Linked DNA regions of Homo sapiens: region 1 is linked to region 2. The links come from fine-mapping of genetic effects on gene expression. A gene starts in region 2. The other region holds a variant in brackets. All regions are shown on one strand. Distances are between the middles of the regions. Region 1 has its middle 130 kb from the start of ESR1. Region 2 holds the start of ESR1 (estrogen receptor 1).

Region 1 (4,389 bases), 130 kb before region 2:
CTCAGTCACCCTGTCTGATCACCTGGCTTATAAGTCCAGTCCCTACCCTTGTACTCCCCATCTCTAATCCCTGCTTAATCATCGCCTTAGCACTGTCACCATCTGACTTTCTTTCTATATATATTTTATTTATTGGTTAGCTCGGCTGCTTCAACAGATACCATAAACTGGGTGGCTTAAAATCAGACATTTATTTCCCACAGTTCTGGAGGGTGGAAATCTGAGATCAGGGTGCCAGCATGGTCTGGTTCTGGTGAGGGCCTCTTCCAGGTGCAGACAGCCACCTTGCTTTTTTTCTTTTCTCTTTTTTTTTTTTTTTTTGAGTTGGAGTCTCGCTCTGTCACCCAGGCTGGAATGCAGTGGTGCCATCTCGACTCATTGCAATCTCCACCTTCCAGGTTCAAGTGAGTCTCCTGCCTCAGCCTCCCGAGTAGCTGGGACTACAGGTGCACACCACCACGCCCAGCTAATTTTTATATTTTTAGTAGAGACGGGGTTTTGCCATGTTGGCCAGGCTGGTCTTGAACTCCTGACCTCAAGTGATCCACCTACCTCGACCTCCCAAAATGCTGGGGGGTCGTGAGCCACCATGCCCGGCCAGATGGCCACCTTCTCCCTGTGTCCTCATGTAGCAGAAAGAGATCAAAGAGCTCTTTTGTTTCTTTTATGAGAGCACTAATCCCATCACAAGGCCCTGACCTCACAACCTAATCACCTTCCAAAGGCCCCACTTCCTGTCGCCATCATATTGGGGGTTTGGATTTCAGCATATGGATTTTGGGGGGACACAAATCTTTCAGTCCGTAATAGTTGGCCTCCTCCCTTGTTCCACTAGAATATAAGCTTCAGGAGGTCAGGGATCTTTGTCTCTTTTGTTTACAGCTATGTTCCTAACACCTACAACAATGCCTGGCACATGGTAGGTGCTCAGGAGATAATTATTGGATGAAAAAAAATGAACCGGTCTCCTCCTTAACCCCTGAAATCCTGTTCGAGTCGCTGGGTTTGCCTTGCTCCACTGGGATGAAGTCCTGGCTTGGTGTCCTTGTCTCCCAGGGGTAGACGCCCCGTCTCTGGGAGGACTTGAGGCTCTCCTGGCCTGCTGCTTGGCCTCCTTACCTGTTCTGCCCACTCAGAGCCCTGCCAGCTGCCTGGGATGGCTGCCGGGCACGTCCTTGTTCCTGCTCAGTCAACCAGTTGGGGCCTTGGTTTGGACCTTCACTTATTCTTCTGTGAACCTACCTCTCTGGTCCCCAGCTCGTCTTCTGAAATTTTGATGTGTTGGTCAAGCCCAGTCTTGTTTGCACATCCCTGTGAATGATTCTTAATTATATTTCTGGCTGGCTCTGTGCAGTAGACCATAGAAATAACGATTGTTTCTGGGGTTGCGCTGGAGTGTGAACAGGTGGGGAAAATGCCTCAGGACGATTGGACCGAGGAGACTCTGAGATGACTGATGAAAGCGACAGCAAGAGCTTTCCACGCTCCTGATGGCAGGAGGGGACGGCGGTGCTGAGGGGTGGGGGAGGCTCAGGGGGAGCTGTTGAGGGTCCCGTGCTCGTCAATTCTCTAGCTTCTCAGGCGCCTTGATCTTGTCATTTAGAAGCCTCTGGAAGCACAGGGACTGTGGAAACTGGAAGCTGTTCTTGGACTATTTCGCAACACTTTTCTCCAGGAAAAAGAAAAAATAAAAAAAAGCCTCATTCTCTTCGTCCCCAATGTTACATAATCGAACATTTCCCGTCCTGGTTGAAATGAATATCCTCTTTGCCTGAATAAATAATGCACAGATTCTTCGGGACAGGCTGCTTCCTCCAGGCCGCCGCTTCCAAGGGATCCGGTCGCTTTGTGGGTTTAGTGGTGGCCCACAGCTGGACGCGGGGTCCAGCTTG[G/A]GGTGGGGGAGGCGGTGCTTTCTGCCAAAATGTCTTTTAAACGTCTCAACAAGTAGCAAACAAGGCCCCACCTGCGACAGTTGTAGTGATTCCGGAAGACCTGCTCACCACGAGGTGCTGGGGTCGCTTGCAGCTGGCAGTCTCCGGTGGCTGCAGTTTAAATAAATCTCCTAAGTGCAGAATCACCACACAGGGCGCGGAGAAACTGAAAAGTTAAAACATCTGGAGTTACAAACACTCACAGGCCTATCAGCTGTCTGAGTCCCCGTAGGAAAACTGTTTATCGGATGCTTTAGTATTCAACCTTTTATTTCCTAGCACAGGTTTTTTGATTTTCACATGGAGTGTTTGATTATTTTCCCATGCCCAAGTCACTGTTTTCATAGCCTGTTGTTTAATCTGTGTGCACCTTTGTTTTCACTCTATTTCCTTTGCTTTCCTATATGAGAAAAATAAATGGCACCATTGAATTGCACGGTAGAGGCTGATGCTATTCCAGGTGCTCAGGTTGGCTTTCCCATCTTTCGTTTCCTCCTGTAGGAAGTTTTTTTTGGTATAAAGGGAAGGACAGAATTGGATCTCCCTGGAGGGAGTTTCATGTGTTTCTTATTCTGAGCTGCCGGGAGCTGGTTCACAGCACAACTTGATAATTGCTGAGTAGACCTAAAGTTTTGAAAATCAAGATCTCTTTGGAGTTTTACAAGTAAAATTTCAAAAATGAGAAATGACTATCCCAATTTATTTTAGAAGAAAGGTGCAGCTTGTAAACTTTCATGAATTTGGTAAAAGGGGGCTAATTTGAAAAGGAAAACTAATAGGCAATATTTACAAATTGTGAAAAATATCAGAATAGTATACGTGGAAGAGTTATTAGACATTCCATTTGCAGTGGTAAACCCATTCCTTTGATTCTGAATCTTGTTTAGGTTTCCTTAAGAATTTGATGAAGTTTTCAGACTCTTCCTTCAGAAAAATGCACATATTCTTATGTACCTAAATGTTTGGATATGATTTCAGGGGATTCCAAATCCCCTGGGGACCCCCCATGTGGATGTTTGTGATGCAGAATGGGGTAAGAAAACCAGGAGAGCCTACAAAAATTTTATGAAATAGAAATATGAACATACAGTACTGAGCCAAAATTTAGTTGTGAGGAAAATGATGTTAAATGCATTCATTTTCTAAATGATGACAGAAAATTAGACTCATATTACTATCCGGGTGAAGCATATTTTGTACTTATGGTGACCTAGTGATCCAAATGCCTGCTCTTTGGTCTTATCCTCTTATCTTCCTTATGTCAATACTGGGCTGCTTAAATATGTACTGTCTCCGATGTCATTATCTAGTTTTGTTCTTTGTTTTCTATGTTTTATCTTTTACTTCTTGTTCCTATTTCAAATACTTTGACGGTATTGGGACTTGGGGACATGTCCTTTCCAGTACAGATTTTGGTATTGTAGAGGGAGGTTTACAAGCCCAGGTGGGTGTACTTGGGGACTGAGGCTGCTCAGTAGCCCTGTAAATGGTCAGAGTCTGCTGTTTCTGTTGCTTGGAGAGCAAGGTGAATGCAGGTCTCTTTGGATATTGGGGATGATAGAGGGATGTGGATTGGAGAGGAACAGGACTTCCTGCCCCCTCAATTTAAATGGAGATTCATTTGATCAAAAAAAAAAAAAAAAGCACATATATTCACCAGGCCCTGTGTGAACTACCACCTTGGATGTAGGTGGAGTAAGCCATATTCCCAGGTAGCCTGCAATCAACTGCAATCCATTGGTGGTAGGAGGCATGGGAGATACAGAAGTAACTCAGGACTAGATTGAATTGGCCACTTATCTAAGAGTGTTATCAAGTGTTCTGTAAATGTGTGAATTCTGATTAGTTATCAGGTTGTCATACATTTTTTTTTCTTTTTTTTTTTGAGATAGAGTCTCACTCTGTCGCCCAGGCTAGAGTGCAGAGGTGCTATCTCAGGTCACTGAAACCTCCACCTCCCAGGTTCAAGCAATTCTCTCACCTCAGCCTCCTAAGTAGCTGGGATTACAAGCATGTGCCACCACGTCTGGCTATTTTTTTTTTTTTTTTTTTTGTAGTTTTAGTAGAGATGGGATTTCACCATGTGGCCAGGCTGGTTTCGAACTCCTGAGCTCAACTCATCAGCCCACCCCTGCCTCAAAAAGTGCTGGGATTACAGGCGTGAGCCACCACACCTGGCTACGTGTCATACAATTCATTTGTCTCCCTTCCTAGACACAAGCTCCTCAGGATCATATCTGTTCTTCCTTGCTGGCACAGAGGAGATGCTTCAGTAGTGCTTGTTGCTAGAGGAGAAGGGTACAAGTGGCATGTGGAGAGATTCAGAGAAGGGTAGAATAGGATGATGTTGGGCCATCAGGAAGGTCTCCATGGAGAAGGTGTGCTTTGAGATGAACACTGAGGAAGTGGTGGGATCACACCTGACCTAGATAGAGAAGGGGCTGAAATCCAAGCATAG
Region 2 (4,389 bases):
CACACTGCTCCCTGTGAGCAGACAGCAAGTCTCCCCTCACTCCCCACTGCCATTCATCCAGCGCTGTGCAGTAGCCCAGCTGCGTGTCTGCCGGGAGGGGCTGCCAAGTGCCCTGCCTACTGGCTGCTTCCCGAATCCCTGCCATTCCACGCACAAACACATCCACACACTCTCTCTGCCTAGTTCACACACTGAGCCACTCGCACATGCGAGCACATTCCTTCCTTCCTTCTCACTCTCTCGGCCCTTGACTTCTACAAGCCCATGGAACATTTCTGGAAAGACGTTCTTGATCCAGCAGGGTAGGCTTGTTTTGATTTCTCTCTCTGTAGCTTTAGCATTTTGAGAAAGCAACTTACCTTTCTGGCTAGTGTCTGTATCCTAGCAGGGAGATGAGGATTGCTGTTCTCCATGGGGGTATGTGTGTGTCTCCTTTTTCTTTCAGGACTTGTAGGATTCTTTGTGCCATTTGCATATAATTTGGCAGGTTCACATTTTTTAAGAGCCCTATGAAGTGCTTTTTGCATGTGTTTTAAAAAGGCATTTGAAAATTGAAAGTGTGATTTATGGAAATTAAATCATCTGTAAAAAATTGCTTTGGAAAGTAATGATTGCTGGCCATAAAGGGAAATATCTGCGATGCACCTAATGTGTTTTTAACCCTTTATTTGCTGACAATCTATAGTCATTAATGCTAAACTCGATTTTGGCTTCAGCTACATTTGCATATTGTCCAACAATGGTCTATTTTTGTAAGAATTAGATAAAATGTATACTTGATATAAAATAGTCAAAAATGTAACTCTTAGTAACAGTAAGCTTGGCATTTAGATAGACCATGAACACTTCGTCAGATACTCTGTTGGGTGTTTGGGATAGCAATTAAAACAAAGTATTGATAGTTGTATCAGAGTCTATTAGGCTGCAGCAAAGGAAGTTTATTCAAAAGTATAAACTATCCAAGATTATAGACGCATGATATACTTCACCTATTTTTTGTCTCCTTAATATGTATATATATATATATATATATATATATACACATATATGTGTGTGTGTATGTGCGTGTGCATGTTTAACTTTTAATTCAGTTAAAAACTTTTTTCTATTTGTTTTTCATCTGGATATTTGATTCTGCATATCCTAGCCCAAGTGAACCGAGAAGATCGAGTTGTAGGACTAAAGGATAGACATGCAGAAATGCATTTTAAAAATCTGTTAGCTGGACCAGACCGACAATGTAACATAATTGCCAAAGCTTTGGTTCGTGACCTGAGGTTATGTTTGGTATGAAAAGGTCACATTTTATATTCAGTTTTCTGAAGTTTTGGTTGCATAACCAACCTGTGGAAGGCATGAACACCCATGTGCGCCCTAACCAAAGGTTTTTCTGAATCATCCTTCACATGAGAATTCCTAATGGGACCAAGTACAGTACTGTGGTCCAACATAAACACACAAGTCAGGCTGAGAGAATCTCAGAAGGTTGTGGAAGGGTCTATCTACTTTGGGAGCATTTTGCAGAGGAAGAAACTGAGGTCCTGGCAGGTTGCATTCTCCTGATGGCAAAATGCAGCTCTTCCTATATGTATACCCTGAATCTCCGCCCCCTTCCCCTCAGATGCCCCCTGTCAGTTCCCCCAGCTGCTAAATATAGCTGTCTGTGGCTGGCTGCGTATGCAACCGCACACCCCATTCTATCTGCCCTATCTCGGTTACAGTGTAGTCCTCCCCAGGGTCATCCTATGTACACACTACGTATTTCTAGCCAACGAGGAGGGGGAATCAAACAGAAAGAGAGACAAACAGAGATATATCGGAGTCTGGCACGGGGCACATAAGGCAGCACATTAGAGAAAGCCGGCCCCTGGATCCGTCTTTCGCGTTTATTTTAAGCCCAGTCTTCCCTGGGCCACCTTTAGCAGATCCTCGTGCGCCCCCGCCCCCTGGCCGTGAAACTCAGCCTCTATCCAGCAGCGACGACAAGTAAAGTAAAGTTCAGGGAAGCTGCTCTTTGGGATCGCTCCAAATCGAGTTGTGCCTGGAGTGATGTTTAAGCCAATGTCAGGGCAAGGCAACAGTCCCTGGCCGTCCTCCAGCACCTTTGTAATGCATATGAGCTCGGGAGACCAGTACTTAAAGTTGGAGGCCCGGGAGCCCAGGAGCTGGCGGAGGGCGTTCGTCCTGGGACTGCACTTGCTCCCGTCGGGTCGCCCGGCTTCACCGGACCCGCAGGCTCCCGGGGCAGGGCCGGGGCCAGAGCTCGCGTGTCGGCGGGACATGCGCTGCGTCGCCTCTAACCTCGGGCTGTGCTCTTTTTCCAGGTGGCCCGCCGGTTTCTGAGCCTTCTGCCCTGCGGGGACACGGTCTGCACCCTGCCCGCGGCCACGGACCATGACCATGACCCTCCACACCAAAGCATCTGGGATGGCCCTACTGCATCAGATCCAAGGGAACGAGCTGGAGCCCCTGAACCGTCCGCAGCTCAAGATCCCCCTGGAGCGGCCCCTGGGCGAGGTGTACCTGGACAGCAGCAAGCCCGCCGTGTACAACTACCCCGAGGGCGCCGCCTACGAGTTCAACGCCGCGGCCGCCGCCAACGCGCAGGTCTACGGTCAGACCGGCCTCCCCTACGGCCCCGGGTCTGAGGCTGCGGCGTTCGGCTCCAACGGCCTGGGGGGTTTCCCCCCACTCAACAGCGTGTCTCCGAGCCCGCTGATGCTACTGCACCCGCCGCCGCAGCTGTCGCCTTTCCTGCAGCCCCACGGCCAGCAGGTGCCCTACTACCTGGAGAACGAGCCCAGCGGCTACACGGTGCGCGAGGCCGGCCCGCCGGCATTCTACAGGTACCCGCGCCCGCGCCGCCCGTCGGGGTGGCCGCCGCGCCCGGCAGGAGGGAGGGAGGGAGGGAGGGAGAAGGGAGAGCCTAGGGAGCTGCGGGAGCCGCGGGACGCGCGACCCGAGGGTGCGCGCAGGGAGCCCGGGGCGCGCGGCCCAGCCCGGGGGTTCTGCGTGCAGCCCGCGCTGCGTTCAGAGTCAAGTTCTCTCGCCGGGCAGCTGAAAAAAACGTACTCTCCACCCACTTACCGTCCGTGCGAGAGGCAGACCCGAAAGCCCGGGCTTCCTAACAAAACACACGTTGGAAAACCAGACAAAGCAGCAGTTATTTGTGGGGGAAAACACCTCCAGGCAAATAAACACGGGGCGCTTTGAGTCACTTGGGAAGGTCTCGCTCTTGGCATTTAAAGTTGGGGGTGTTTGGAGTTAGCAGAGCTCAGCAGAGTTTTATTTATCCTTTTAATGTTTTTGTTTAATGTGCTCCCCAAATTTCCTTTCATCTAGACTATTTGATTGGAAATATGTCAGCTATGATGATGACTTTCTGGGAAGCGATTCCTGTCACCCGCTTTCCCCTCCTCCCCACCCCACGTCCTGGGGCTTTAGAGAGCGATTGGGAGTTGAATGGGTCTGATTTCGGAGTTAGCTGGCTGAGTCCGCGCTGGAGCGGATTGCTGGCATGTGACTTCTGACAGCCGGAAATTTGTAGGTGTCCCGCGAGTTTAAAACAAGCCATATGGAAGCACAAGTGCTTAAAAATAATCTCCTGCCAGCCCAGTGACAAGCCTGTCCCACCCGGGGAGAATGCCCCGGAGTGGCGTGCGGGTCAGCCAGGGTCTGCGCCTCGCAGCCACTGTGGAAGGAGCGCGGCCGGTCCAGGACACAGGAGACCACTTTGTGACTTCAATGGCGAAGGTTGTGTGTCCTCATTTTAATTTTTTTCCCTACAAGAATTGTTCTTTCTCCCTCTCCTCTCCCTCCCATTTTCTCTTGCCCAGTTTCTCCTTTTGTTTTTTGTTTTTTGTTTTCCTGATGGGCCTGCAGAGGGATTAGGTGGGCGCTTCTGGTGAACACCTTCCTAGGTGGCCACAGGACAGGTGTACCCCGGACTGGGTTTGGAAGCTTCAGGGCGCCACATGGCTGGGTCCTGAATTAGGCATTTCCCAACTGTACACTGGTATCCGGACTGGTGTCCCTATATCTTTCTGCCTTGTAAGCCGTGGACCAGTTTTTGTTCAGTATTCTGTTTCCAGGGATATTTATAGCAGAAGGAAGGGGACTAAAGTGCAGTTTGGCCCCAGAGGATACTGAAGGGCAGATTCTGGGGGTATTCAGTGTGCATCTTCAGCCGCCTTGGAGAAATTTAGAGCATCCCACAGCCACGCAGATCCAAGCTGTCTTTACTCAAAAGACAAACAATGAACAAAACTTTTAAAGGTTGGCATATTTCAAATTAATTTTACTTGTTTTAATTTAGGGTTAAAACAGAGAAAAAGGATTTCTTCTGCCCACCTTTTTTTTTTTAAATGGAAGAACAAAGTACAGCGATTA

The links. PIP is the estimated chance that this variant, and not a neighbour inherited with it, causes the effect.
Region 1: its variant is the best candidate, but not a certain one, in a credible set for the expression of ESR1 in whole blood (TOPMed, PIP 0.55).

What each region holds. Positions count from the first base shown.
Region 1 is chr6:151,679,901-151,684,289 of GRCh38, forward strand. It overlaps a transcript of ESR1 not described here. Among named protein-coding and RNA genes, the nearest start is that of ESR1, 130 kb to the right of the region's middle. The variant G/A (reference allele first, on the strand shown) is at 1,893.
Region 2 is chr6:151,805,519-151,809,907 of GRCh38, forward strand. ESR1 (estrogen receptor 1) reads left to right here and starts at 2,164. Exons shown (of 8, transcript NM_000125.4): 1 at 2,164-2,846. The coding sequence starts at 2,395.